Linked DNA regions of Homo sapiens. The protein of the gene in region 4 purifies or fractionates together with the protein of the main gene of each other region. This does not show direct contact. Each region holds a gene or a part of one and is shown on either strand. Other genes may lie near its edges. The genes, in order: CDK19, MED12L, MED9 and MED13.

Region 1 (7,017 bases), on a different chromosome or scaffold from region 4:
AGTAACAACCATAGAAGATTCATCAAACAAATTATAGAAGGAGCAGCCAGGTACCACAGAGTGCTCTTATAAAACAAGAAACTCCCAATCCAACCCCATCCACAAAATGCTTATTAGTCTTTTCTAATTCTCATTTATATTTTTTTAAAAAGATGTTTCTCCTAAAGATGTATAAAAACCTGCAATTTTACTTATGAGGTATTTGCAGGCCTTGCTTGCTTTGCAGTATTATGACATCATAGCATCCTGAACAAAATAACATATTAGAACTCACAGAAAGACTTCGTATCTCTGCAGGAAAAGTGTAATTATAAAAGCTTCTAGGCACACAGATAAAATTTTAACGCTAGATGGGGTCTCACTATGTTGTCCAGTCAGGTCTCCAACTCCTGGCCTCAAGCAATTCTTCTACCTCAGCCTCCCGAAGTGCTGAGATTACAGGCATGAGCCACTGTGTCCAGCCACTAAGCCTTATTATAAGATTTTTTTTATATTTAAAAAATCCACACAGAAGCAAAGTCAATTAAATTTTATTTCAACCAAGAATATAAAATAAATGCAATGTAATTTATTTTAGTTTTAACAGTCATTTCAAGAAGGAAGTCAGGTCAACTCAAAAGCAGGAAACCCTCGCTCCAAAGCAGTAGCTCGTCCTGCACTCCATGGAGCAGGCCTCGCTGGGGTGCAGCGGCTCTGAGCACAAACCTCGCAGTGGAGCACGAAAAGCTACAGTCATCTCTATAACCATATAAAGGGGGATGCGTGCAGAAAATGACTGAAAAAAGAGACAAGAACAGGTACACTTCACAAATAGGAATTATAGGAATATACAAACTAGGCAGTTTAGAAAGGATATACTACATAACATATATAAAAAGTACTTTAAATTGTTGTTAAAAAGGACACCTTCAGTCCAGATTTTGTGTAATACTTTTAGTGTCTACACAGACAAATCTTTAAAAAAATTAAATAGTATTAATTTACTAAATATTTAGGAGATAACAGTGCATTAAGGGTTTTTTTTTTTATATAATACATACATATCACCCCTTTGCAGTGATAGCATAGAAGAGTAAGTATGGCCTTAGGTACAACACGTTTTTTAAAAACCCTAAAACAATGAACTTTGTTATATTTGTGACTATTTTTGAGGATTATGGGGACCTAAACTGCTATGTTTTATACAAAATATTACTTGTACTTGAATCCTTCAAGCCTCTGTTGGTCTAACTGCCATTTCACTGCCTTTCTCTACTCCCTAGGAAGACATCATCATAGAGTTTTGGATTTGTAATTTCCATAGAATTCTTCCTTCATTGTATAGTTTCTGCTGCATAAATTTACTCAAAAGCACATCAAGTTGCATGTCTTATTTTCCAACTATTTTTTTCTTTTCTTTTACCTTTAGCAGAGAAAACAGCATCATTTTAGAGGCATAGAGAACAAGTAGCAGTTGCTTCACCAGGAATGAGGCAGCACACATAGGTAAATGTCATCCCTTTCCATTCTTAAGAGTCCATTATGTTCGTAAGAGCAAAAGAGTAGTGCAGAAGGCCAAAATTCTAAGTACTAAAGTTTCAAAACCACAGAGATATAAAAATATACATAATCCTTGGTCTTTGTATGTCACTGCATGATCTACTTCATCACAAGGATTGTTTCAGCCTCATAGTATCAGCCCTGCTGCCAAAGCTACCTTACCTTGAGCTCATCTGTCCTGCAACACTTGAATTCCTTTCACAAACACACACCTCCCCAGAAAGCTAACTCTGAAACTGGTTTGTAACACGAAGAGCAGAAAGCCTTCACTTGGATTCATTCCTTCCTGTCAATAACCCCTCCTAGTTTGGGTGTTCCCATAGGCTGAGGGATGCCCCTCCTGTACCCTTGGGGGACATAACAGTATCTAATAAATTTCAAAGAGAAATGCCATCATTTGGGGACCACAAAGGTAAAGTTTGCCCTCAAAAAGCTTCAAAGGTCTCCTTAGAGGTCCCACGGTTTGAGGGCCCTTACGTGTGTTAAAAAGGCTTTGTTCCCAACTGGGTGCGGTGGCTCACACCTATAATCCCAGCACTTCGGGAGGCCGAGACAGGCGGATGACCTGAGGTGAGGAATTCAAGACCAGCCTGACCAATAGGGTGAAACCCCATCTCTACTAAAAATACAAAAATTAGCCAGACGTGGTGGTGCGTGCCCGTAGTCCCAGCTACTCGGGAGGCTGAGGCAGGAGAATCACTTGAACCTGGAAGGTGGAGGTTGGAGTGAGCCAAGATCGTGCCACTGCACTCCAGCTTGGGTGACAGAGCAACACTCCGTCTCAAAAAAAAAAAAGGCTTTGTTCCCCTTTAAAGGAAAGAAAATGATCCAAAATTATTACTAAGGGTAAAGGGAATCAGTGGGTAGCACGAACCCTGAGGCAAGGAAAGAGGAGAAAAGAGCCAGTACCAGTGCAGGGATAGGAACTCAGTCATGTGTGGAATGGAGATTTCTGGCTATGTCCTGGAGGATATTGTATACTGGGAGCAACTGACGAAATCCCCTTACAGTTTATATTTCAGTTCTGCCAGCAAAAGTCATTATATACAAGGAAAACAGGGTAGTTCTGTGAATGTATAAGCGTAAGAACTATTTAACAATGCTGCTTATAAAGTATTAAGGGGCATAGTATTTTGGTTTACATATCTATCTGGGTTTGTCTTCTTTTATTAAAGGTAACCTCCTTGAGAGCAAGAACAGACCTTCTATTTTCCTTGCAATTTCCTACAACCACTTAGGAGAGTATGTTCTGCCTACAAGGACCACCCAGTTGTTGTTAAAAGGCTGCTGTGAACATTTCAAAGATACGTCAATGCCTTTTGTGATATTGAATCACTGGCTTTCTCTAAGGTAGACTGACATAGAAACCCTTCCATAATATTATTTACAGAACAGATTTGGGGATAGTAACTACCCAAGTGGGTTTAGAAGTAAACAAAAAGACCTTCATATTATAAGACAGTTTCACTTGTAAGTCAATCACATGGCACAGACATCCCAGGAGGGCTTACTGTCACAGATCACAAGCTCCTTAAGGACAAGAAGTATGCCCTGTCCTCTGTGTTCTCTACCCAGCAGGGCACCAGGCACATGGTGAGGGTGCAATAAGCATCTGATGACCAACAGCTCTGGACAGTGAGGCTTTAGGGCACAGGATAAAACTGCATATAGGCAGCTACATTATGCAGAGGGCTGCTAATTTCTTATTTTAAAAAATGGAAGGGGTAAAACAGCAGGAGACTATCAGAAACTCCTTCCAATGGAGCACGTAACCTGCTTCATCTTCAGTCTTGATGAGTGTCACTATGCAGACTTCATTATTAGTGAGCATTATTATGCTGAGATCAGTAAGGTCCTGGCTGGCTACAGTATCACATCAATAGTGCAAAATGTATACTGGCTTCTGTCTAATCTTATTTTACTTGTGTATGGACCCACAGTATCATAACCAGGTAGATAAGTTCAGAAAGAATAGTTTTTAAAAATGCATGTAATTTGCATATACAATAATCAGCTATTTCTTCTAGCTCAAGAAAACATTTAAAACAAGGCTGGTGCTGCTAGTAGCATTCAGAAGAACACAAATTTCTTGCCCCTTACATTACAATGGGAGCTCTAAGTTTTTACATTTCCTTTTGACTCTGGGGAGTGAGGGGCTCCTTAAAGCAGCTAAGAAAGAACTCAGCCACTAATTCATAGATAATGGAAATGCAAATATTCACTTTGTCTAGTATAGTCTTATACTATCCGCCCATAGTTTTTAGGCACAATTATTAAGTTTTCTCCTAGGGGCAAAAGAAATCATTCAGTGCAATGAAAAAGATTCTTGATAGAATTAAGTTTCAGTAACAACAGCAAAATTATGCATACATAATACATACTTTAAACATGAATAAAACCTAAATTTTTAACATGCTTTAAAAATAGTCACTCTATATCTAATACAAATACGAATGGAGAACACTGCTCTTTATTTTAAAAGCAGATTAATTTTCAGGCTTCTACTTGAGTAACCTTGATTATGCAAGAAAGTTACTCACGCAGACCCAGATGTGAAGAAACCAATGGTTCTTTAGAGAAGCCGACTTTATGTACAATACACACTAAAAACTTTTCCTTCAAAGGGAAGTAACACGTCTTTTGATCAAAATTACTCCTTACAGAAATCCTAGTGCAGTTGTTACTCTCTTCAGCGTTTTGGTGTGGGCCATCGAGACTGTACAAAGCTCTTGAAACCCTTTTTAAGGTAGACTTAGCTACATGAAGGTTAAAATTGTAATTCTTAATTACTGAATGCTATTCAGAATAAGATGATGCTGGGAACTCAGTTCCATATGAATGATTCTATAAAAATTACCACATACTTCAGTTCTTCGTGGCATAAAGCACATAACTGCAAAGATCTAGGCAGTTTTTGGTTGTAGGTTCCCTCTGTCCCACCGCTTGTCTTTTTATTAGACCTTCCCTGAAACTAGATAAATACGAACGTAATAGTAAAGTACTTTGGGACAGTAACAGTTTCTGTTTAAGACTTCCATGAGCAGAACAGTTATTGTCTGTGAAAACGTAGTGCTTTAAAAGGTGCATTTTTACCTGTGTTGCTAAATCAGTTCATGAAGTATAAAACTATACACCACTGGAATCCTGTTTCTAAAACATTAAAATCCTATTAAAAGAGCTTTGAAAAGATAAACCATAGTGATTGCTACAGCATGAGAAAGGTGCACCAGGAAATCCTTCAAAGAAATGCTGAAGGTTACAGAAGTGCTGGGATTAGATCAGACGCTTTATCAGAGAAGTCACAATGGAACACATGCAGGGAAGGGGTGCTGGGGAAACTTCACAAGAATCTTCTTTAAGTCAATAAAGAAGAGCTATCAGTCCTGCACAATGCTCAGTATATAAGGTTTTCCTCCCATGTGTATGAGTTTTAAATGGCATCATAGTTTGCATTTTTTTGGTTCTTTTCAATGCAGACATATTGCTGGAGCCTGTGCTCTGGGCTGGGCTGGCCTGGCCCAACGGGAGCTGGTCAGTACCGGTGGGCCTGGTGAGATGGGTGGTACTGTGAGCTCTGCTGAGACGAGGAAGAGTAGCCAAGTGTGCTCTGGGACTGAGAGGATCCCTGAACGCTGCTTTGGTAATTCAGGCGAGAACTGGAGTGCTAGGAGAAGGAAACAGGAAAAGGGAATTACTGATGGAGGAAGAGGATGACTCAAGATGCTCATCACAGTAGGATAGAGATATAAGCCGTTTTCATTAGGTTCCTGGTTCAGACACACATAGCTGACAGCTAACTTAAGTTGTTAACACATTTTGCTTATTTGAAATCACAGCCTGCCACCACTGTAACCACACATTCTGGCAGGCATGAAATTTGGCTAGATTTTTGTGGGAGATAAGCTACACTGGAAAGAAAGGAAAAGGGGAAATTTCAGCGGACCCATTTCTCTTTATTCCAATTCTGGGGTGTAACAATCCTTTGCATAACTGAGACGTGCAAACAAGAATAATCAATTTGGCATACTGAAATCAATAGTATTCATAATGTATACTGACATGCTATTATTTTTCCCATTATAAATAACAAAGCTGTGATTAAGAAATCATTATTTTAGAGCAAAGGGTTTTCAGAGGTAGAAGCTAGGGGTATCAGGAGTTCTACCTACGAGACAAAGTAAGGCAAGATTAGGTGGGGTGCGGCAGCAACATGTGGGTTTTATAAACTTCAGGTAACATTTAGAATAAAGCAATTTTCACATATGATTGTCTTCAAGAGAAGACAGAAAAATGCATTTCAATTCAATGTATTTTTATTACATTAAATGAAACCTTCATCTTCATAGTACCTAACGCAAATACAAAAAAAATGTGTAAAAGGAAAAATCATCTATAGAATAAGAACAGTATGTAAGAGACAAGCATAGCTGGAAGTAGTATCTTTGGCTATATTCAGAAGGCTGGTTTTTCTTGTAAGCAAAGTGGGAAAGAATATATGTAATAAAGCTATTACTTTTGAAACTTCCTTAGCAAAAATTAAACAGCAAGAAAATTATGACAGTGAAAGAGATCTGATTTAACCCACTCCATCTTGCCTTTAACCTCCAAACTGTTCTTGGTCATTGCTGGGCATGGGCCAAGCTAACTTTGGGAGAAATTTAGTTTATAGTTTAAACGACAATAGTCCATCCCAAAACTAAACTGCCTTTATAAAACTACTAAAAGGCCACAAGTTTAGGATTATGAGAGAGGCCTGAATTCTGCTAAGATGTAGGTGCAGTTAAACAATTACCAGTCATTGTTCTGGAGGTCAATTGGCTACTCCCCAATTACTCCTGTAAATAACATCACTATTGTCAACCTTTTCAGAAGGCTTTTCAGACTTTTGCATTTCGGATGACTCCACCCAGACTGAGACTCATGACTCAACCAGTCCTGTGGCCCCCACCCAGAAGTGGACTCAGCACAGGAAGACCATTTTTCACACCCCTTTGATTGCATCCCCAACCAAGCAGCAGTAGTCATTCCCTAGACCCCTGCCCACCAAAGTATCTTTGAAAAATCCTAGCCTCCAAATTTTGAGGAGGCTGATAATAAAACTCTGATGTCCCATTTAGCTGGCCCTATGTGTATTAAACTTTCTCTATTGAAATTCCTGTCTTGATAAATTGGCTCTATCTGGGCAGCGAGCAAGAAGAACCTGTCGGGCGGTTACACTTTGAGTTAAACATGTAAATTATCTTGAGGTGGCACTGGGGGTTTAGGAAAGAACAGATCAGCAAGGTCCTCCTGCTCAGTGCTCAAAGGCTGCCAAACGACTTGGAATATCTGGTCCAAGATAACAGGGCACTAAGGTAGTTTTGGTTAAAAACAACTCAGTTGTGGCTAGGCACAGTGGCTCACACCTGTAATCCCAGCACTTTGGGAGGCTGAGCTGGGCAGATCACCTGAGGTCAGGAGTTCAAGACCAGTCTGGCC
Region 2 (7,798 bases), on a different chromosome or scaffold from region 4:
TAAGCAAACTGCCTATAGACAATCTGTTAACAAAACACAGTATATACACCTGGACACGCAACAATCCCATGAGGAAAGCTAGCAACTTTAATTACTTTACCTACAGGCACTACACTGAGAATTGTTTCTTTCCACTTGAGTGGAATTGTGCTGCTATGCCAGAGTGAGCTGTCAGGAGTTTTGCTTCTCTTATACCAGAACTGTCTTCAAAGGCTCACCTTTATGTGTTATGTAAATGATAATTAATACATGTAACACATTGACAACAATAATAAGCATAAGTTTGGGAGTCAGAGAGATTCTAGGTTTGATTCTGGCTTTGCTAGTCGCTAACTCAATGGCCTGGGAACAGCAGCTTCACCTCTGGAGCCCTACCTACTAATCTGTAAAATAGGAATAGGAATAGTAGGACCACTCCCTTCCCTTCCCTTCCCTTCCCTTCCCTTCCCTTCCCTTCCCTTCCCTTCCCTTCCCTTCCCTTCCCTTCCCTTCCCTCCCCTCCCCTCCCCTCCCCTCCCCTCCCCTCCCCTCCCCTCCCCTTCCCTCCCCCTTCCCCCTCCCCCTCCCACTTCCCCTGCCTTTTCCTTCCCTTCCCTTCCCTTCTCTTTTCTCTTTTCTTTTTTCTTTTTTTGAGACAGAGTCTCTGTTACCCAGGCTGGAGTGCAGTGGGGTGACCGCCGCTCACTGCAACCTTCACCTCCCAGATTCAAGCGATTCTCCTGCCTCAGCCTCCCAAGCAGCTGGGACTACAGGCATGCACCACCACGCCCAGCTAATTTTTTGTTTGCTATGTTGGCCAGGCTGGTCTTGAACTCCTGGCCTCAAGTGATCCACCCACCTGGGCCCTCCCAAAGTGCTGGGATTACATGTGTGAGCCACCATGCCCAGCCAGGACCACAGTTTCTGATGGGTAAACATCCTGCCTCTGCTCCTAGCCATTCTTCACTCTCATTTAAAAAATCTGCTCTGCTGCCAGGTGCGGTGGCTCATGCCTGTAATCCCAGCACTTTGGGAGGCCAAGATGGGTGGATCGCTTGAGGCCAGGAGTTTGAGACTAGCCTGGCCAACATGGCAAAACTCCATCTCTACTAAAAATACAAAAATTAGCCAGGTGTGGGGGCATGCACCTGTGATCCCAGCTACTCAGGAGGCTGAGGCAGGAGAATCGCCTGAATCCGGGAGGTGGAGATTGCAGTGAGCAGAGATGGCGCCACTGCACTCCAGCCTGGGTGACAGAGCAAAACTCTGTCTCAAACAAAACAAAACAAACAAACAAAACAAAACAAAAAACAACTTCTCTGCAAATGATTGTGTCTCTGCCTTTCACCAAAGAAATTTTATTCCTCACTTCAAACTTTTTGAGAGGGTCACTGACCTGAGCATTTGACATTCATCCTCTGCAGTTTGGATGAACCTGAGGAACTGGTCTCCGATTTAGACTATTGAACTTTCAAGGTGGAGAATTGTGGCTTGCAGAGTGTGTTCATGGTGGGCAAGGACAGAAGGCTGGTTAGAAAATGCCTGCACTAGCGTATGTACAGGCAAAGGACATTTGTGTATTTCTGGCAGACCAAATGTAGGGAGAGAAAGCCAGCCATGAGCTATATTGAAGGGATTTGCCCAAAAGCACAAATGGATACCAACTGTGAGGGACTCCTTGCAGAATGCTGAAAATCAGGGCTTTCAGAGGGAACATAAGCAGTTAGGGAATCTTTGAGAAACCCTTGAATGTGACCCAAGAAAAAGGGTCAACTTTTAAATACCTGGTAACCCTCAAAAGCAGCAGTGAAGACTCAGCTTTATACTTGGAGGATATAGCACCATATGCTTAAAATGGTTTGTAATTCATTCACCTTTCTCCAGCCACATTTCAACCCCATTTCCCTGGATAGCTATACAAAACTTCCTTAGGAACCTGAACTCATCCCTTCTTGCTAGGCTGAGGTTCAAGGCTGGGACCTATTTGGGGAGCCTCTGGTCTTCTCTAATTTCTGTTCCATGCAAATTTTTCCTGGTCCCAGGGAATCATTAGCTAGGTAAAGATAAAATACCCCTTAGGAACAGTATCAGCTAGAACCCACATTATTCAACGAGAATGTTTGCCTGCTATATTAACCAGCACCACGTGGGAAATTCAAGCACTGTATAGAACACAGTGGGTTACAGGTTAAGCCCATCATGATGAGCTGATCTTAGTCTGCTTAAAGACCTGGAATGGAAGAAGGGGACCAGGAGGAAAAGGTGAGAATGAGGCAACAAGACTATTCTGTGTGACACATTCAAATGCATGCCAATAAATAAGTGTTAAGATAATAAAAATTAAGTGCTAAGGGCACTAAAAAGCCAAAAGATCACCTTTTGCCAGGGGAATTTGAAGGGGCTTTGTACAGGAATCCGTACTCTGAGGACTGTAGAGGTGAGTATTTGAAGATGAAGAGCCTGGGAATTCCATATTAGGAAAGGAAGCTAACTAGGGCAAGAGGTTAAGGAGAAAAAGCTGAATTGCTAGGTAGGGGGTAGATTACAAAGATTTCCCAGGGTAAGGAGCCAAATGCCCATGGGAAATCCATGCAGTAAAATAATGATTCCTAGGGGAAGCTTCTAAGCATATTAAAGTTTTCAATATTTATTTATTTTGTGTTGAGAGGGTCAAGGAATTCATGCCAGACTGTTTCAGGAGAGGGAGTTAAGAAGGGACAACAACAGGGAGAGGGCTATTATTTTCCCTTCTTCCCAAACACCAGGGGCACACTACTGACACATTTTGATTTTAAGATAAAATTCTTATGGGCAGATAAGATTTTAAGTGCTTCAAAGTGTTTCAGTTGGAGGCGCTTGCTTAGGCATCCCAAGGGAAGAACTGAGATTACATTTCTCCCCCAAACTAGGGGTGTTTGATTCAGTAGCAGCGCAGGCTGTTATTCCCAAAGTACCACTAATGATGCAATCATCAGTCCATCCACACATCGCCTACCTATCATCCATTCCATAAGCCAACATTTTTGAATGCTCACCATGTGTCAGGTCCCATACAGTGTTTCTGAGTTGCAACAATGAGTAAAACTGTCCTTACTAGTGTATGTCAGTGAGTTGGGAATGGGGGAGAAAGATGAAACAAAAATAGTAACTTTAATTTTTATAGCTGAGAGATGAATATTTGAGGGCTCCTTATATGATTTCTTCAGCTTTTTGTATGTTTAATAATTTCCCTAATAAAGTTAGATAATAAAAAAAACCCTTTCGGCCGGGCGCGGTGGCTCACGCCTGTAATCCCAGCACTTTGGGAGGCCGAGGTGGGCGGATTGCGAGGTCAGGAGATCGAGACCATCCTAGCTAACACTGTGAAACCCCGTCTCTACTAAAAAAAAGAAATACAAAAAAAATTAGCCGGGCGTGGTGGCGGGCGCCTGTAGCCCCAGCTACGCGGGAGGCTGAGGCAGGAGAATGGCGTGAACCCAGGAGGCGGAGCTTGCAGTGAGCCGAGATCTCGCCACTGCACTCCAGCCTGGGCGACAGAGCGAGGCTCTGTCTCAAAAAACAACCAACCAACCAAACAAAGAAAACAACAACAACAAAAAACTGTCCTTTCTTTCAAACAAGGGAGCTACATTTGATAGATGCCTGTATCACAAGGGCAAGTCCAGCCATGAAATTAATCCCAGGATATTAGTGGAAGAGAAGACCCTGGGGCAAGATGGGGAAGGTGGTCAGGAAATGCCCTCCAGTGAAGTTAGGTAAATGCTCTCTAGAAGTAATTGTTCAGATTAAGGAAGCCAAAAGCTAAACACCTGACTCAGCCTCAAACTGGGTTTGGAGGTGCTCACAGGTCAGGATCAGGAGTGAGGAACTAGCCTCTACCACATTACCTTCACTTTATTTATCTCCTTCTTCCCCCTTTGCTTAAATGTCAACGAACATCAAAGTTGATGTTCAGATTCAACCAGCATTTCCAGAGCACCTACTATGTATCAAAGGCTTCCGGTTAGAATCTGCCTTTACCACCTTACAGAGAGGGAAGGCCGAGAATGCCTCAAGCCGTGGAGAACGTGAGTCCATCAGGCAAGGACAGGTTAGGAACCCAGTCCCTCCAAGTCCAAGTCAGGGAAAACAGGTCAGAAACTTAGAATCAGTCGTGGGTTCAAATTCCGACTCGTTTCGTGGCTTTCGGCAAGTGAGTGGTCCTCTCTGAGCTGGCTCAATTTCTCCATCCATAAAAAGGGTACAGTAAGACCGTGGAAGGTTGTAAGGACCAGAGATTCTGACTATCAAGATCCTGGCACGTAGCGAAGGCTCCATAAATGGCAGCCATCATTCTTGGCCAAGTGCGGGCGCATTCTCCCGGGCACGCCTCCCGCGGGGTCCCTCAGGACAGGCCGAGCCCGCCTCCGCGGCTCCGGTCTCGCAGAGCTCGCGCCAGGTGGCCCAGCATCTTGGTGCCCGCGCCCCGAAGCGAGGAGCGAGGGCGGGTTGGATGACCAAGGTCTGCCCTGGAGGATCACCCCCCCCGCCCCTTCCACGCTCCCGGCGCAGGTGAGGTTTTCGGCCCAGGCCACGGGGACCGCGACCTCTGGGGAGGTCGAGGCGGAGGGTGCAGCGGGGGGCTTGGAGCAGGGCTCCAGAGGGCGCTCCCTCCCTCGCCCAGGTTCACCCCAGGGCCAGCCTCGGCGCCGGGGCCCGCGGGCTGCGCGCTCTGCGGCTGCGAAAACCCGGAGAGGCGGATTGGAGCGCGCTCACCGCGCTCTCAGCCAACTCCTCCGCGGTCCGGCCGCCGAGCTGGGCATGCTCAGTGCGGACGCCGCGCCGCCGTCCGCCAACTCGGAAGCTCGCGCTCCCGGGCCGTGGGGGCGAGAACGCCGGCGGCGAGCCGGCGTCGCTCGCCGCCCCCAGACAGTGGCAAACTTCGCGGCGTTCCCGGAGCTCGTCCGGGCGAGGCAGATACCGCACAAATAAAATCAAATCCAAGTCCCCCATCCCAACCCGAATGATGGAGGCTGCGGCGGCCGGAGTGACCCCGCCGCCGCCAGCCCCAGCCCGCTAGCCGCGGACCAACAGGTAAAGTGTTGGGGGTTGGGGGCGGAAGGGAAGAGGAGCTGGGGCCGTGGGGAGGCGGCGGGCTGGAGGAGCCCGAGACGCCTGCGGGCTGGCTGCCCCCGTCGGCGCTCACAGCCATCGCTCCTCACCCCCTTCCCCAGCCCCTGGAGGGACTGTAAAGGGTTAAGTCGGCCCCACGCCACCGTGAGCACGGCCCCCTCCAGCCGCCGCGACCGCCAGCAGCGCGCCTCGGCGCCTGCCCGGAGCCGCCGAGGGGACCGTAGCTGCGGATGCGCCACTGGAACCTGGCGGGCGTCTAGGAGGCACCGGCCGCTTCCCACCGGCCGCATCCCTGCGTCTCGCGCCCCCTCCAGACCTGCCTCTGCCTGCACTGGCCCGGTCCGTGTCCAGGTGGCGGGGTCTGCGGGGCGCGTGGCGGCGGGGGAAGGGTCCCTGCCGGGGAAGAGAGGCGGGGGCGGTCCGCTCCACAGCTTCTTCCCGGGAGGGGAGGGCCACCCTCGCCTTGGGCGAGCACTTCAGCCACCAGCCTAGGCGCCAAGAAAAGTTTTTTTTTTTTTTTTTCCAGTGCCCCACCCCCACCCCCATCCTGCGCCCAGCTGGGGTGGGTTTGGGTCCATTGGTGAAAAAAGTCACACGTTCCCATCAGCTGCTCCTCCCCCTGGAGACAAGGTAGGGGGGAGCAGAGGAGGCAGGCGCCGCGGAGGACCCTGGCCGACCTCTAGTCCCTCCGCCGCCGCCACCGGAGCGGTGCGTCCCGGGGCTCGAGCGCAGCCGAGTACCCGCCGAAGGCTGTCCCCATCAGTGCGTGTCTGCTGCCGGGCAGCGGCAGCATCCAACCTGCTTTATTCCTCCTGCCTGCAGCGCCACAGCGAGCGAGCGAGCGAGGAGGGGGAGAGAGGGAGTCTGTCTGCAAAGTGCTGCTCCCTGGTGCTCAGAGGCGGCTGCTCCAGCTCCAACTCTCATTCATTTCGCCGGTTAACATGAGAGATCATGGCCGCCTTCGGGCTTCTCAGCTATGAGCAGAGACCGCTGAAGCGCCCCCGGCTCGGGCCGCCCGACGTCTACCCACAGGACCCCAAGCAGAAGGAGGTAAGGGCGCCGGCGGCCTCCCCGGCAACCGGGGCCGCGCTCTGCAGCACTGACCCGGGGCCAAGTTGGCCCAGCGGGCATCGCCGGCGCTGCGGTGGAAGAGGTCGGGGAGGGGGATTAGAGGCGGGGGCCAGGCTGGGGGTGCTGGGCGACCCCCCGGCGGCGGAGACCGAGCGGCTGTCAGTCCCCGCGCTCCACTGGGGCGCTCGCTTTCCATGTGCCGGTCGCTTTCCCGTTGCCGGGCCTTGCACGGCGCCGCCGGGCGCTTCTCGGGCTTCTTCCCTGCCGAAACCTTGCTCGCTCTCACCCGTTTCTGCCTGCTTTATTTTTCTTCTTGCCGCTTCGGTAAATCGTCGTAAACTTTTTGAAAAATGTTGGAATGCAGTGCATCCTACACTGAGGTCTTGCGTTTTGCTTTTGCTGGCCAGGGACGAAGGTGAGGGGGAAGCTTTTCAAATTTTCCAGTTTGGAATGGAAGTCGTTTTTATCGAAGTGATAAATATTTAGCTCTCTGAATATACCTCTGTAACCCTTCTGCCCTTTAAAAATTAAAATTAAGGAGAAACACTGATTTTCGTCTCTAGAGGCAATGGGCTTAATTGCTAGAGGCTGTTTTGTATACGTAAAAGCAGGCGAGTTACCTTGGGAGGGAATAGTTCCCAGGATTGCTTATTTCTTTGAATGAGATTAATTGGAGACACCTTGACTCTTGCACCAGCTACATTAGCTTCAATGGCTAGGGTAACCATGGCATTTTGTAGCTGTGTATCTGTTTGTCAGGAGTTAACAAGTAATTATGTAACAAGTCTCTAGTTATAATGATCACCTTTGGCTACACCATTTGCCCAGGGACTTGCCTTTTTTTTGTTTTTTTTTTGATCACCTGCTACCCAGCAGTGCTTTCTGAGTTTGCCAGCTGCAGTCCACCCATCTTCTGTTCAGCTAAACACGAACTGACCATATTTCAAAACTTACCTTTCTGAGAATCTAAAAACCCTCCATTAAAAGTTTGTGGGCCCACTGATAGCACAGAAAGGGCCTTGTAAACCAGGCAAGGAGGGGTCCTTAAGACTTTCCTTTTGATAAGTGTATCTTTCATTAGGAGAGTAAGTGCTTGTTCTGGCTAAACTGTCTTGCTTATAAAGTGTCTGAGAAGTAAGGAACAGCAACTCCTTTTAGAGGTTTAGCACACTAAATATGCTCTAGCATCAGTGGAGTCACGCAGATGAAAGCTGGGAAGGTTTTACAGGTGGTTTCCAGCACCAGCTTTACAGGATGGTAGAGGTTTGAGAAGATTTCCCAGATTTTTTTTCCTACCCGTTACCCCACCCTGCTACCCCAACTTAGAATGAAGTTAATGGTTAAGGACTGGAAATAATAGAGAAGCTGAGGATCAAGTGTACAGTTAATAGCTTAAAAATTATTGGGAGGAAATTCTTAAAGTTTTGATAGGGACAGGGATATTTTGTTGGTTGAACTTTATCATCTTGTAATTAATGTCTTACTCTGTCTTTCCAGAGGGCAGCATAATTGATGGCATGATGGCTTGGGGTGCTGTGTGGGCTTATTTAGCATTTGTTCTTCAGGCCAATGCTCATTTCACGACTGGGGCCTCTGATTCTGGAAAGAGTAATTTTGGATTTCAGGGTCTCACAAC
Region 3 (6,747 bases), about 44 Mb from region 4:
CACTCTGTATCTAGCTCAAGGTTTGTAAACACACCAATCAGCACCCTGTGTTTAGCTCAAGGTTTGTGAATGCACCAATCGACACTCTGTATCTAGCTGCTCTGGTGGGGCCTTGGAGAACCTGTGTGTCCAAACTGTATCTAACTAATCTGATGGGGACGGGGAGAACCTTTGTATCTAGCTCAGGGATTGTAAATGCACCAATCAGCGCCGTGACAAAACAGGCCACTCGGCTCTACCAATCAGCAGGATGTGGGTGGGGCCAGATAAGAGAATAAAAGCAGGCTGCCGGAGCCAGCAGTGGCAACCCGCTTGGGTCCCCTTCCATGCTGTGGAAGCTTTGTTCTTTCACTCTTTGCAATAAATCTTGCCACTGCTCACTCTTTGGGTCCACGCTGCTTTTATGAGCTGTAACACTCACCGCGAAGATCTGCAGCTTCACTCCTGAGCCCAGCGAGACCACGAGCCCACCGGGAGGAACGAACAACTCCAGACATGCTGCCTTAAGAGCTGTAACGCACACCGCGAAGGTCTGCAGCTTCCCTCCTGAGCCAGCGAGACCACGAACCCACCAGAAGGAAGAAACTCCGAACACATCTGAACATCAGAAGGGACAGACTTCAGACGCGCCACCTTAAGAGCTGTAACACTCACTGTGAGGGTCCGTGGCCTCATTCTTGAAGTCAGTGAGACCAAGAACCCACCAATTCCGGACACACAAGTACATAAGGGTATAAGTACAAGATGTTCACTGTCATTCTAGTACAGTACAACCACCCATGAATAGCCAGGGTAATTTCGCTGTCTAATTGTATATGTGTTAACATGGAAGGACATCTGAGGTGCCTTGTTAAGTAGAAAAAGCAAGAATGAGAACTATGGATGGTCACATTTCTGTCAGAACAAATAAGAAAAGTTTGTGTGTTTTGTATGCTGTTGTACATTTCAAAGCCATCTGAAACAGTGGACACCACATGTTAGCAGAGGTTATCTCTGGAACAAGGGGTTAATGAGATTTCCCTTTTCTAAGCCTTGGTTGTCTCATTTTTGAATTTTTTCCCTCAAGTACCTATTACTGTCATTTTTTAAAAAAGTGATCTTAGAAAAATGAAAGCCACTGGAGTTAGTACCGTGCGAGGAGAGCCTGTGGGCAGAGGAATGGACTGGTAAGGGCTGGTCTGAGGGCAAGGCAGCTGGGACAGAGTGGAGTGTGAGGCACAGTGCATGGAAGTTGTGAGGAAGAAGAAATGGGAAACTGAGTCAGATGCCACCAAAAGGTCAAAAGAAATGACTGTCAGATTTGGGAGGAAGTCTGTGTCAGTGGTTCTAGCAGAGTTATTGGCCAGTTTGCATCTGTACTAAAGCATCCATGCTAAAAAGAAGAACAAAGAAAATCAGGGCATGATTCTCAGACACCTGCCTAAAACCCTGTGATGTTTGCCTTTGAGTCTGGTGACACGGATACAACTGTCTGTCAGACGTGGGAAGGATGCTCAGAGGATCACCCCTGGCGGTAGTATTTTTGTCCACTCTTTAAAAAAACCATAGTAGGGGGCTGGGTGCGGTGGCTTACGCCTGTAATCCCAGCACTTTGGGAGGTTGAGGTGGGCGGATCACCTGAGGTCGGGAGTTCGAGACCAGCCTGGCCAACGTGGAGAAACACCATCTCTACTAAAAATACAAAATTAGCCGGGCGTGGTAGCGCATGCCTGTAATCCCAGCTACTCAGGAGGCCGAGGCAGGAGAATCACTTGAACCCGGGAGGCGGAGGTTGCAGTGAGCCAAGATCGCACCATTGCACTCCAGCCTGGGCAACGAGTAAAACTCTGTCTCAAAAAAAAAAAAGAAAAAAAGAAACCACAGTACCACAGTAGTTGGGACCAAAGTGCTCTGACCTTGCCTTGTTTGTACGATGTTCATCCTCCTTGACCTAGTGGCTTTTTTCATTCCTTCTATAGTTGGCCGATGACTAACCTTGAACACAAAGGTAGGCCCACTTAGAGCTTTCTGCTTTTATTCACTCGGTATTTGGTCCTGTCCCTTTTCTTTTGGCTTGAATATTTCACAGTCATCCTGGCTTAGCAGATGCCCACTTCTGAATAGCATGTTCTCTTCACTCCAGGAGTTCCATGCTATTTACCTCCACCAACTAGGGCAGTTGGGCTTGCAGAGGGGCCTCCCTGTGGGCTGCATGGCCCCTTTTGGCTCAGCTGCCCTCCAGGCGGCTTGTCTTACAGCTCCTTTTTTATTATCTGAAGACTGTCTCCTTTCCTGAAAGTTCACCAAAGAACACGCAACCCTTGCTATTTGGGGGTTTTCAGAGATGAGCATCTTAAACATGACCCACTTTCAACTTTCAGAACTAAATTTTCTTTTGGGCCAGGTTATGTTTGCTTCAAGAATGGGATTATCTGTCATCCACATTTCTATTTTAAGTACTTTTTTGTTTGTTTTACCATGTCCTTTGAGACTCATGTGAGTCGGTTTTTTTAAAAACTATATTTTAATTTTAAAACTTCCTTGGGACTTAAATTCGTAACGGTATGTTAACACGCATGCCATCCGAGTAGAAGGATTTCAGAAGTGCAGATGGTTTCTGTCCACATTTGTGGATCAGAGCTGAGACTTCAAAGAATTAAAATAAAAGACGTTCCCTATTTGCTTCCTTCCAAAGGATTTTTAGTTCTCATGAATACCAGTTCATCCTCTCTAGAATCTGCGATAAGGTATACTGTTAATGGTGTCTCTCAGTTGAGGGCATCATTTCCTGGCCTCTCATTTCCTGGAAGAAGTGATTGATTCTCCATACCCTCCCTCTGAGTTTAGAGCTGTTGGTAAATACTGAGCTGGCCATGGTGGCCATCTGATTTGCAAGGTGTGAGACGTAACTGATGGATCGCCAGGAAAGATGGATATTCTGCCTGCGTAAGCAGAGAAATGATGAATAGTAAACATGAATTAGCACCATCTGGGTTGAAATTTCCCACTACGGATGAACATTTATTTGAAAAAATTAATGATCATTGACAGTTTTTCCCTCTTATGCCTCAATGGCTTACTTTCAGAACAGCTTACTGAATTGCCTTTTAGTTTTGGTCTCAACCACTTGTTTTCAAAAGCTCATCCACTTACTAACTTTTAAAAAACGTATAGGAAGCTGAGTGTGGTGGCTCATGCCTGTAATCCCAGCACTTTGGGAGGCCGAGGCAGGTGGATCACCTGAGGTCAGGAGTTCAAGACCAGCCTGGCCAACATGGTGAAACCCTGTCTCTACTAAAAATACAAAAATTATCCGGGCGTGTTGGCATGCGCCTGTAATCCCAGCTACTCAGGAGGCTGAGGCAGGAGAATTGCTTGAACCGGGACCCGGGAGGTGGAGGTTGCAGTGAGCCGAGATCGCACCACTGCCCTCCAGTCTGGGCGACAGAGTGAGACCCTGTCTCAAACAAACAAAAAATGTACAGGAGCAACTGCCAGGCTGTTTTTTTGATCTTAAGTGAGATTGTTCTTGCCTCGTTTTTCATTGAGTAGGACCTCTGTGCAGCTAATAGCTGTGAGATGGAGCGAACCGTCTGCCTTGAAAGTGAACTTGACTCAAAGACAAGGACTGTCCATGACCATGGTAGAAGAGAGCCTGTGTCTGCTGAGACATTTAAATCAGTTCCATTTTAACTAATCTAACATTTATGAACAGCTCTGTGGAAATTAGTCTTTATGTTAACAGGTTCAAGCCAGCATCAAAACCTCAGCTAAAATTAGCTCTTGCTAACTGATAAAGCCTCCTGATTGGCCTAGAAATGGCTCCAGTTAGACAAAATGTCGTATTTCAACAAGTTTTGTTTGGCATTTGTCACCTGATATTGGTATTGGTTTGTTCATTGAACCAACATGTTCATGAGCTTATTTGCTAAGCATTCATTCTTTCCACGGACATTTCTTGAGTGCCTGTAGTGACCTACACACTGGGCCGGGGGTAGGGAGACACCTGTGACCAGGCAGACATGGTCCTTGACCTCAGAGTGACAGTTGACTTGACAGAAGATCAAGAGTGTCTGTGTGTGATCTGCAAGTGTGCTAGGCCTGGGAGCTCTGTGCCAGCTGCCTAAAAAAGAACCCGTCCCTGCCCTCTGGGGGTGGACAGCCTAGTCAGGGGATAGACACATAAAACGAAGTGTTCTAAAAGCTATGGCAGGAATGACAGCCAGCTCTAGGGGGTGCAGGGCAGGAACGCCAAGACGTGTATCAAGCTGTGAATGCTAACAGCTGTTCTTCCCCCACAGCATGGACAAGGACAGCCCGGAGGTCCACCAGGACCTGAACGCCCTCAAAAGCAAGTTCCAGGAGATGCGCAAGCTCATCAGCACCATGCCCGGCATCCACCTGAGCCCCGAACAGCAGCAGCAGCAGCTGCAGAGCCTCCGGGAGCAAGTCAGGACCAAGAATGAGCTTCTGCAAAAGTACAAGAGCCTCTGCATGTTCGAAATCCCCAAGGAGTAGAGTGAGGCTGACTTCCTTAGAAAGAGGGGGAAGCCAATGGCCTGTCTCCCCACTACCATCCCCAAACGCTCCTTGGGGCGTGGTTCCTGTGGACCCCAGCTCAGCTCGTCAAGCTGCAGGGGCGGGGCTCCTGTGCTGCTGCGCGCGCTTCGCCTGTGCGGGAGCCAGCGCAGAGCTTGGCTGCGCCGGGGGTTCCTCGTGTAGATCCATATGTCTAGATGCATAATAACTGGAGTGCCTGCTGGTGGAAGTCAGAATGCTCCTGGAGGCTGCAGAGGGGGTGGAGGACTCTCCCCTGCCTCTGGGGAGGGGGCCATCTGCTGCGCCCGGCCCCACTGACAGATCTGAAGAGCACAGTAGGAAGGGAGGCGGCTCCTCTTTGCTTCCTTCCCTCTCTCTCCTCCCACCCCCATAGGATCAGTGTGTACCAGGTACACATTGTTCCTGTTAACAGCAGCTTCTTGAAACATTTGCATAGAATTCACTGGACGAATTAAGCCTGCACTCATATGGCATAGAATTGTGAGAGAATGTTTTGAAAGGCCAGAGGGTGGCCTTTTTCCCCAAACAGTTTGGTTCCTTTTATGTTTGAGCCAGTGAAGGGAACTACGCTTTGGGGGCTTCAGCCTAGAGCCCTGCCAGGCAGCCCCTGGCTCCAGGTTCCCTGCCTCCTAGCGCTCTCCTCGCCTTCAGCTCTTGCTCCCTTCCTCGTTCATCACCCTCAGTCAGTGCCCAAGAGTGGCCAAACCGCTTCACATCTGCAGTGCTTCCCCAGGGTTGACAAGGGGCCGTCCTTTCCACACAGGCCAGAAGAGGTCTTCAGGCGAACCGACCTTCCCCCTTCTGGCATTTCAGATTCCCCTTGCTCTGGTTAAAAGGTCTTTCCCTCGTGGCCTTTGCACTTGCGGCAGCAACGTGTACTACACTGCAGAAGGGTTCAGTATGCACCTTGTGTTGAGAGAGAGGCAACCCTGGGGGCCAGTTCAGGTGGTCCCCAACCATAAGCTAGGTCTGAAAGTTACACAGCCAAGTTTGAGCTCTTAAAAGTTGATGAACAGCCTCATTTCCCCAGCTTCCCTGATTTCTTCCAGATGGGACGTTTTATTTGTGTGCTCTCCCTTGACTGTCAGATTGAAGTAAGAGCAGTTCTCTCCGTTGCCTCTCGAGGAGGAGGTGCGAAGTCCTGGAGTATTGTTTGGGTCTCGGAATGGGCGCATAACCTGCGCTGACCAGTTTAGGGGCTTAGCAGATGCCTGCCAGCTGACCTCGTTGGCAGGAGGGTTGGGTGGAGATGTTTTTAGCAGAGCTTCCATTAGTGTAGACCTGTAGCCACCTGTCAGAAGGTGGGTGGCATATTGGGGACCTGGGAATGTGTGAAGGAGGAGATCAAATTTCAGTGGCTTTGGACAGAAAAGAAGGCTCTGGATTTAAGCGGGTGGTCACCTGTGAGACCAGGTCTACCTTGGGACTGTTATTTAACTGAATCAGTTATTTCCTTGAAATTTCACAGTAGTGGGTGGGCCTGTTTTAAGGCTCTGACAGATACCACGAAACATGAAGCACGTGGAACTACAAGACCCCCGGGGTCTTTCTGAGTGCAAGGCTGAAATGGACAAGGGCTCCTCACGGGGGTGGAGGGAGCCGGAGCCTGCCTTGTGTTCCTTTTTTGACTTGTGACATTTTTCAAACACATAATTAAAAGGACTTATGCTCTGCTGTCTCAGGACATAATGCTTTTTGTACTGAGAAATTCATAGTGGGATGGCTCTCAGATAGTTGAGAGGAAAATGTTTCTCTCAGTCTCTTCAGACACAACCACACCTCTGCTCCTCACTCCCTCCGCCCCAGCACACACACCCGCCCCAGCACACACACCCGCTGAACCAGTGTGGAACAGGAACTCCTCTCCCGGCTGGCCTCAAGGGCAGTTTGCCTGGCGGGTCATCCCTGGGCTGTCCTTAGTTGCCTTTTATTTTTGGAGGGGGGAGGTGGGGGGTGCCTTTTGGTGACTCGAGGAGGTTCAGTCCTGTGGGGAGCCGCCCTCACCAGAGCAGGGTTGAAATCCTTCTAGGACAATTTTGAGTGTCTCTCACAGGGCTGAGCGTCCTCTGAAAGCCACCAATTACTTGGATTACTGGGTGGCCGGCATTTATGCTAAGTACTTTTCAAACATCACACTTAATCCCCACAGTGAGCCCATGCCGAGGGTGTTCTCTCTTCCCGGGGTGAAGAATTAGAGGCTTGGCAGGT
Region 4 (7,025 bases):
TAAAATATTCAACACTAGGCCGGGTGCGATAGCTCATGCCTGTAATCCCAGCACTTTGGGAGGCTGAGGCAGGCAGATTGCTGAGTCCAAGAGTTCCAGACCAGCCAGGGCAACAGGGTGAAACCACATCTCTACAAAAAAGTAGCTGGGCATGGTGGTGCATGCCTGTAAGTCCCAGCTACTCAGGAGGCTGAGGTGGGAGGATCACCTGAGCCCAGGAGGTCGAGGCTGCAGTGAGCCGTGATCACGCCACTATACTCCAGCCTGGGTGACAGAGTGAGACCTTGTCTTAAAAAAAGATACAAACTAAAATTTCAAGACTAAGATAAAAAAGCACTTTATGCTCATTCAAAACGTCTTATTTAGAAAAAAAGCAGCATGGCTGGGCGTGGTGGCTCACGTCTGTAATCCCAGCACTTTGGGAAGCCATGGTGGGTGGATCACCTGAGGTCAGAAGTTTGAGACCAGCCTGGTCAACATGGCAAAACCCTGTCTCTACTAAAAATACAAAAATTAGCCAGGCGTGGTGGCACATGCCTGTAATTCCAGCTACTAGGGAGGCTGAGGGAGGAGAATCACTTGAACTCGGGAGGCAGAGGTTGCAGTGAGTGCAGATCCCACCACTGCAGTACAGCCTGCGCAAAAGAGTGAGACTGTGTCTCAAGAAAAAAAAAGAAAGAAGCAGCATCATAGTTTTTATATTTCTGCAAAAATCAGTATTTTTAAAGGTACCTTTCAGACACATCAGGATGCGGCTGAGTGGGAAGTGAAGATGATTCTCCAGAAATCCCAGCTGTCTGTAGAGCTGATGTCTGTTGCCCTCCTAGCTGACCACTCTGAACTGTATTTGCTTGTGTAGACATGGATCCTGCAGCATTACTGTTCATACTGCCAAAGGGTGGAAACGAAGGTAGTTTATTTGATGATACTCCACTATTCAAGTTGGAGGATGATGAAGATGAAGTTGAAGCTGTGGTCAAAGTTGAATTAGCTGTGGCAACTGAAGTAGATATGGCAACACCTGAAGTCACTGTCATAGTGCTGCTCGCTGCAGATGCTAAGGTGGCAGATGGAGTATTAGCATTTCCAGTATTTGTCATCTGAGGTGGAGTAATCAAAGACTGACTTGTAGGGGCAACTAAATTTGGCTGGGAAAGTAGAGAGCTGTCCAATGGCAGGGAAGCAAGATAAGGACCTAAAGAATAAAAACAGGTACGAAATTTAATTCTTTATTTCACTGACTGGTTTTTTTAAATTCTACTGTGTAAACAGAATCATAATCCAGTTGATGTTTTCTTGGTAATTATAGCCCCGAAATTGCTTGCTAATGGTGTGACCTACACTTGCTTTCTATTTTCCCCTAGAGACTGAAGAAACATATTTAAAATGGAATTGAAAAAGCCAGAATTTTCACTCAAAATTAAAGAAATGATTACTATGAAAGTGTAACAAAATTCTATTTTCTAAGTATAATTAAATGTAAAAAAGGTATCTAGCAATATTCATCAAACTATTCAAAGGGTTTCTAAATCACAAATCAAATAAATATTGACTACATTGACAGCTAATTAAAATATAAAATGGTATAATGTTATGGGGTTCAAATTATAGGAATGTCTAATGAGATTCAATATTTTGGTTCTGCATCTCTTTGGATTAAGTCTAAAGGAAGTCCACTGATCTTTATTTTCAAGAGTATTTATAAGCAATACAGTTAGGCACGGGTAGAATGAAAGAAAAAAAGTATGTAACAAGCAAGTCTTAAACAGCTGTCGTTTTCTTAGCTACAACAAAGAACTATTTCTTGGTTTGGTAGAGATTAACTATAAATTATTTTATCTCTAAACTGTAACAAATGAAGAATCTTCAAGTTATTAAAACATCAGACCCTACAGAGGCAACAGAAAATTTATTTATAACCCATAATTTCTTCCTACCTGATGGGATCCCTCATTAGGGATCAGCAAACTTGTTCTGTAAAGGGTCAGATAATAAATATTTTTGTCTTTGCAGCCACACAGTCTCTATGAAAACTACTCAGCTCCAATGTTGTAGCACAAAAGCAGCCAGAGAAAATACATAAATGAGGATGGCTGTGTTCCAATAAAATTTTATCTACAAAAACAGCTGGTGGAGCAGGCCACATTTTGCTAACACCAGCCTTATACAATAAATACAAATTCAATACCTAGGTCATATCTGCAGACTTGTGCATAAAGCTTGAGTTTAGAAAATGCTTCATTGTTACCGTCAGCTGCCTGAGAAAACCATTCTGCTACCAACTTTTCTGATAGTTTCTTTGATGCAGTAGATCCAACTCTCATGATCCCATCTGTTAACAGTCGAGAAACAGGTCTATGTTGACCTAATCGACAGGACTACAAATATACATACAGAAAGCAGAATTAGTAAATTTATTATTGTATTTAGATACACATTATAAAACCAACCATGAAAGCTACTTAAAATAAGCTTAACCATTTGCAATTAACAGTTATGATAAAAATATCAAGGGTGTTTTTAGAAGTAGGCCAAAAAAATAAACATATCAAGGGTGAAATGGTGCCATAGGTCTTTTTCATTTTTACATTAGAAATTCATTAATTTTTTTTCAAAATTAAAATATCTCTAATGAAAAAACACCTAGATAACAATAGTACTAGAACCATTTTGTTTGAATAAAAGCTTGCAGAATGCAGACATAAGTGAGCATAAAAATGCAGTCATTTTAGGTATACATTAACACCAATTCATGAATTATGAATACAAATATCCCTAAATCAAAGCAAAATAAAAATTGTTATACAAATATATTTATACACCTTCTCCCTCTAGTTCTGTGAGTCACTGATTTTTGTTATTAGAAGCCCAATGTTAAATAAATTTAAAACATTGGATTAAGCAAACTTAGAAGAGTTCTTTACTGTAAGAATTTCAAAGCCTTTAAAAACCTAATATGAATTGTAAATCTCTAAAAGGTAATATAATATACAATGTTTCCCCAAGCCTATTTAACTATGGAACTTTTTCTCTGAGAGGATTTTACCGGACTGATATTCCAAATAACACCCTTTGGGAAATGTTTATTTATTAAAAACACACTACAAATACCTTGTAATTATGTGGAAAATTTTAAAAGGAAGCTAAACTAACATACACTAACATTCAGATTGTATAAGGAATCAAAATTTAAAGACTAAATTTCGAAGCCTTTGTGGAAAAAGGAGGGAATAATAAAGTAAGACTTTATGTCCCATAACACTTATAATTTACAATTATTGCGCCTGGTGATGGATATGTGAGAATTATAACTTAAAAGAAGAGGCAAGAATTTCAGACCTGAAATGGACCTTAGTGATATCTAGCATAGATTTATTTTACATATGAGGAAAGTGAGGCCTAGTGTCACTACCTGAAATCCTAGAGAATAAAGACTAGAATTTTTGTAAATGTAACTTTTTTCCTGGCTATTTAACATTGTTACCCTTTGTTTTAGAAAAAGCCACATTAAAAGGGATATATATCTATATGCCCTCAATGTTTCTTCCTCCTATAGGGGGATAGCCACTCTGACCCACGGCATACACATCTAACAGACTGGGTCAAACTCAGCAAAGAATGTAACTGGCTAGTATGAGAAATAAACATCTAATCTGACATCATCACTGTGTCCCAATCAACTGAACTGCCCAGTATGCTGTATATACAACAATACAAATCGTAAGGTAGTTTTAAAATGTCATCTCTTTTTAAACACCTACCTCATATATTGCAGTAAGATCTCTAAAAAAGCTTTTTGCTCCATTTAACAAGGCTTCATTTTCTGGACACAGTACAACATAGGCTATATCTCTTTGAGATCCATAGGGTTCCAGCATAAGTCTCTCCCAATAAGGAAGAGCAAATGGAGAAAGCACCAGATAATCATAATCATAACCCAACAAAAATGTGGGGATTGGCAGTGGTTCTGGGGATTCATCAGTTCCTAAATAAGAAAGATGTATTTTAAGAAAACACTTAAAAACAAGACATGTCTCCTTTTTATTTATTTATTTATTTATTTATTTTTTGAGACAGAGTCTCGCTCTGTCGCCCAGACTGGAGTGCAGTGGCGCCATCTCGGCTCACTGCAAGCTCCGCCTCCCGCGTTCACGCCATTTTCCTGCCTCAGCCTCCTGAGTAGCTGGGACTGCAAGTGCCTGCCACCACGCCTGGCTAATTTTTTGTATTTTTTAGTAGAGACGAGGTTTCACCGTGTTAGCCAGGATGGTCTCGAGCTCCTGACCTTGTGTCCGCCCACCTCGGCCTCCCAAAGTGCTGGGATTACAGGTGTGAGCCACCATGCCCGGCCTCCTTTTTATTTAAATGTCAAAAGTTAATGAAGTCATTATTAGTGAAAATATTTTATTAGAGACAAAAATACTTAATGCCAGTGGTCAAGACTTTTCAACATTAAGGAATTTCCTAAACAAGTCTTTTTATTTACTTATTTTTTTGAGACAGGGTCTTGCTCTATTGCCCAGATTAGACTGCAGTGGAACAATCACGCCTTACTGCAGCATTAACCTGCTGGGCTCAAGCAATCCTCTGTCCTCAGCTTCCCGAATAGCTGGGACTACAGGTGTGTGCCACTATGCTTAGCTAATTTTTAAAGTTTTTGTAGAGATGGGATCTTGCTGTGTTGCCCAGGGTGGACTCAAACTCCTGAGCTCAAGTGATCCTCCTTCCTCAGCCTCCCAAAGTGCTGGGATTACGTGCAGGAGCCACCACGTCTGGTCTGCATTTAAATTTTTGGCATGGGGCTGGGTGCAGTGGCTCACACCTGTAATTTCAGCACTTTGGGAGGCCGAGGTGGGCAGATCACCTGAGGCTGGGAGTTTAAGACCAGCCTGACCAACATGGAGAAAGCCTGTCTCTATTAAAAATACAAAATTAGCCGGGCATGGTGGTGCATGCCTGTAATCCCAGCTACTCAGGAGGCTGAAGCAGAATTGCTTGAACCCAGGGGGTGGAGGTTGCGGTGAGCTGAGATTGCACCAGTGCACGTCAGCCCAGGCAAAAAGAGCAAAACTCCATCTCAAAAACAAACAAACAAAAAATTGGCATAAAAATACACTGTAGGCCAGGTGCTGTGGCTCATGCCTGTAATCTCAGCACCTTGGGAGACTGAGGTGGGAGGATTACTTGAGCCCAGGAGTTTGAGGCCTAGGCAACATAGTGAGACACCATCCTTATTTATACATTTAAAAATAATATAATTTAAAAAATAGAAAAAAGAAAAAACCTTACTAAGAGCGCAGATCTCATGTTAAGTGTTCTTTCTTTTAGTTTTTTTTTGTTTTGTTTTTGAGACAGTCTTGCTCTGTTGCCTAGGCTGCAGTGCAGTGGTGCGATCTCCACTCACTCCAACCTCCACCTCCTGGGTTCAAGCAATTATCTCACCTCAGCCTCCTGAGTAGCTGGGATTATAGGCACACATCACCATACCGGGATAATTTTTGAATTTTTGGTAGAGATGGGGTTTCACCATGTTGGCCAGGCTGGTTTCAAACTCCTGACCTCAAGTGATCTGCCCACCTCGGCCTCCCAAAGTGCTGGGATTACAGGCGTGAGTCGTCATGCCTGGTGAGTGTTCTTACCATAATAAAAAAATTTTTAAAAGAAAATGACCAACAACCTAATAGAAAAATGGGTTAAGAACATGGAGATTACAAAACAAAACTATCTCTAACACATAAAAAGATGCTCTTTCTCATTAAAAAAGCAATTTAAAATTAATAATAGCAAACAATGATAATTCTATGTGCTAGGTACTGTTCAAAGCTCTTTGCATGTACTAACTCATTTAATCCTCACAAAAAACATAAGGCAGAAACTATTATTAACTTCATTTTAGAGATGAGAAAACATAAATGAGGAAGTTAAGCAATTTCTCTAGCATTTCACAAGAAGTAGCAGAGTAGGAATTTAAACCCAAGAAATCTATCCCCACAGTCTGTACTATTTAATCTCTCAAACTATAATGGGAAATAACCATTTTTCATCCACTGAATCAGCATCCTACTAGGCAAGGCTTTGGGAAAACAGGCACTTTAACTGGTGGGAATTCAAACTGATATTACAGGGGCTGGGCATGGTGGCTCACGCCTGTAATCTCAGCACTTTGGGAGGCCTAGGTAGGTGGATCACTTGAGGCAAGCAGTTCAAGAACAGACTGGGCAAGATGGCAAAATCCCATCTCTAGTAAAAATACAAAAATTAGCCAGGTGTGGTTAATGCATGCCTGTAATCCCAGCTACTCGTGAGGCTGATGCATGAGAACTGCTTGAACCTGGGAGGCAGAGGGTGCAGTGAGCTAAGATCATGCCACTGCACTCCAGTCTGGGCAAGAGAGTGAGACTGTCTCAAAAAAAAAAAAAAAAAAAAAAAAGGCATTACAGATAGTTATTTAGGTTTTTTTTTTTTTTTTCTTGAAATACACGTCTGGGTGCTTATAATCCTAGCCCTTTGGGAGGGTGAGTTGGGCAGATCACTAGGGCCCAGGAGTTGGAGACCAGCCTGGGCAACATGGCAAAACCTCATCTCTACAAAATATACAAAAATTAGCTGGGTGTGGTGGTGAGCACCTGTAGTACCAGCTACTTGGCAGGCTGAGGTGAGAGGATCACTTGGACCCAGGAGGTTATGGCTGCAGTGAGCCATGATTGTGCCACTGTACTCCAGCCAGGGTGACAGAACAAATCTCAAAAATAATAATAATAAATAAAATAAAAATACACCCATGCTTTAAAGCCAGGGATCTGTGCATTACTGAAAAGTAGCTGTAATGATAATGGTGGTAACAATTTGTATGTTCATAAACACTGCACTGGTAAAATATATTATCATATGTAAGGAACAATGGAATACATATAGCCATAAAAAAAGATAATCTCTATATGTGCAGATAGAAATGATCTCCAAAATCAGTTAAGGTACAGAAATAAATAAATAAATATCTACTTTTTTTTTTTTTTTTTTGAGAT

The links.
Region 1: the proteins of MED13 (region 4) and CDK19 purify together in Homo sapiens (affinity purification with mass spectrometry; 8 studies listed by BioGRID and IntAct, with this or other methods). This does not show direct contact.
Region 2: the proteins of MED13 (region 4) and MED12L purify together in Homo sapiens (affinity purification with mass spectrometry, with the first as the bait; 2 studies listed by BioGRID). This does not show direct contact.
Region 3: the proteins of MED13 (region 4) and MED9 purify together in Homo sapiens (affinity purification with mass spectrometry; 6 studies listed by BioGRID and IntAct, with this or other methods). This does not show direct contact.

Annotation. Positions count from the first base shown.
Region 1 is NC_000006.12:110,609,464-110,616,480, forward strand, and holds the end of CDK19 (cyclin-dependent kinase 19), read right to left. Parts: intron 5,204-7,017; coding exon 5,072-5,203; 3' UTR 515-5,071; downstream 1-514.
Region 2 is NC_000003.12:151,080,885-151,088,682, forward strand, and holds the start of MED12L (mediator of RNA polymerase II transcription subunit 12-like protein), read left to right. Parts: upstream 1-4,779; 5' UTR 4,780-5,052; intron 5,053-5,770; exon of another isoform or gene 5,771-5,913; 5' UTR 5,914-6,042; coding exon 6,043-6,141; intron 6,142-7,798. UniProt on the Homo sapiens protein: May be a component of the Mediator complex, a coactivator involved in the regulated transcription of nearly all RNA polymerase II-dependent genes.
Region 3 is NC_000017.11:17,486,999-17,493,745, forward strand, and holds the end of MED9 (mediator of RNA polymerase II transcription subunit 9), read left to right. Parts: intron 1-4,280; coding exon 4,281-4,497; 3' UTR 4,498-6,223; downstream 6,224-6,747.
Region 4 is NC_000017.11:61,964,274-61,971,298, forward strand, and holds part of MED13 (mediator of RNA polymerase II transcription subunit 13), read right to left. Parts: intron 3,986-7,025; coding exon 3,762-3,985; intron 2,379-3,761; coding exon 2,189-2,378; intron 1,196-2,188; coding exon 733-1,195; intron 1-732. UniProt on the Homo sapiens protein: Component of the Mediator complex, a coactivator involved in the regulated transcription of nearly all RNA polymerase II-dependent genes.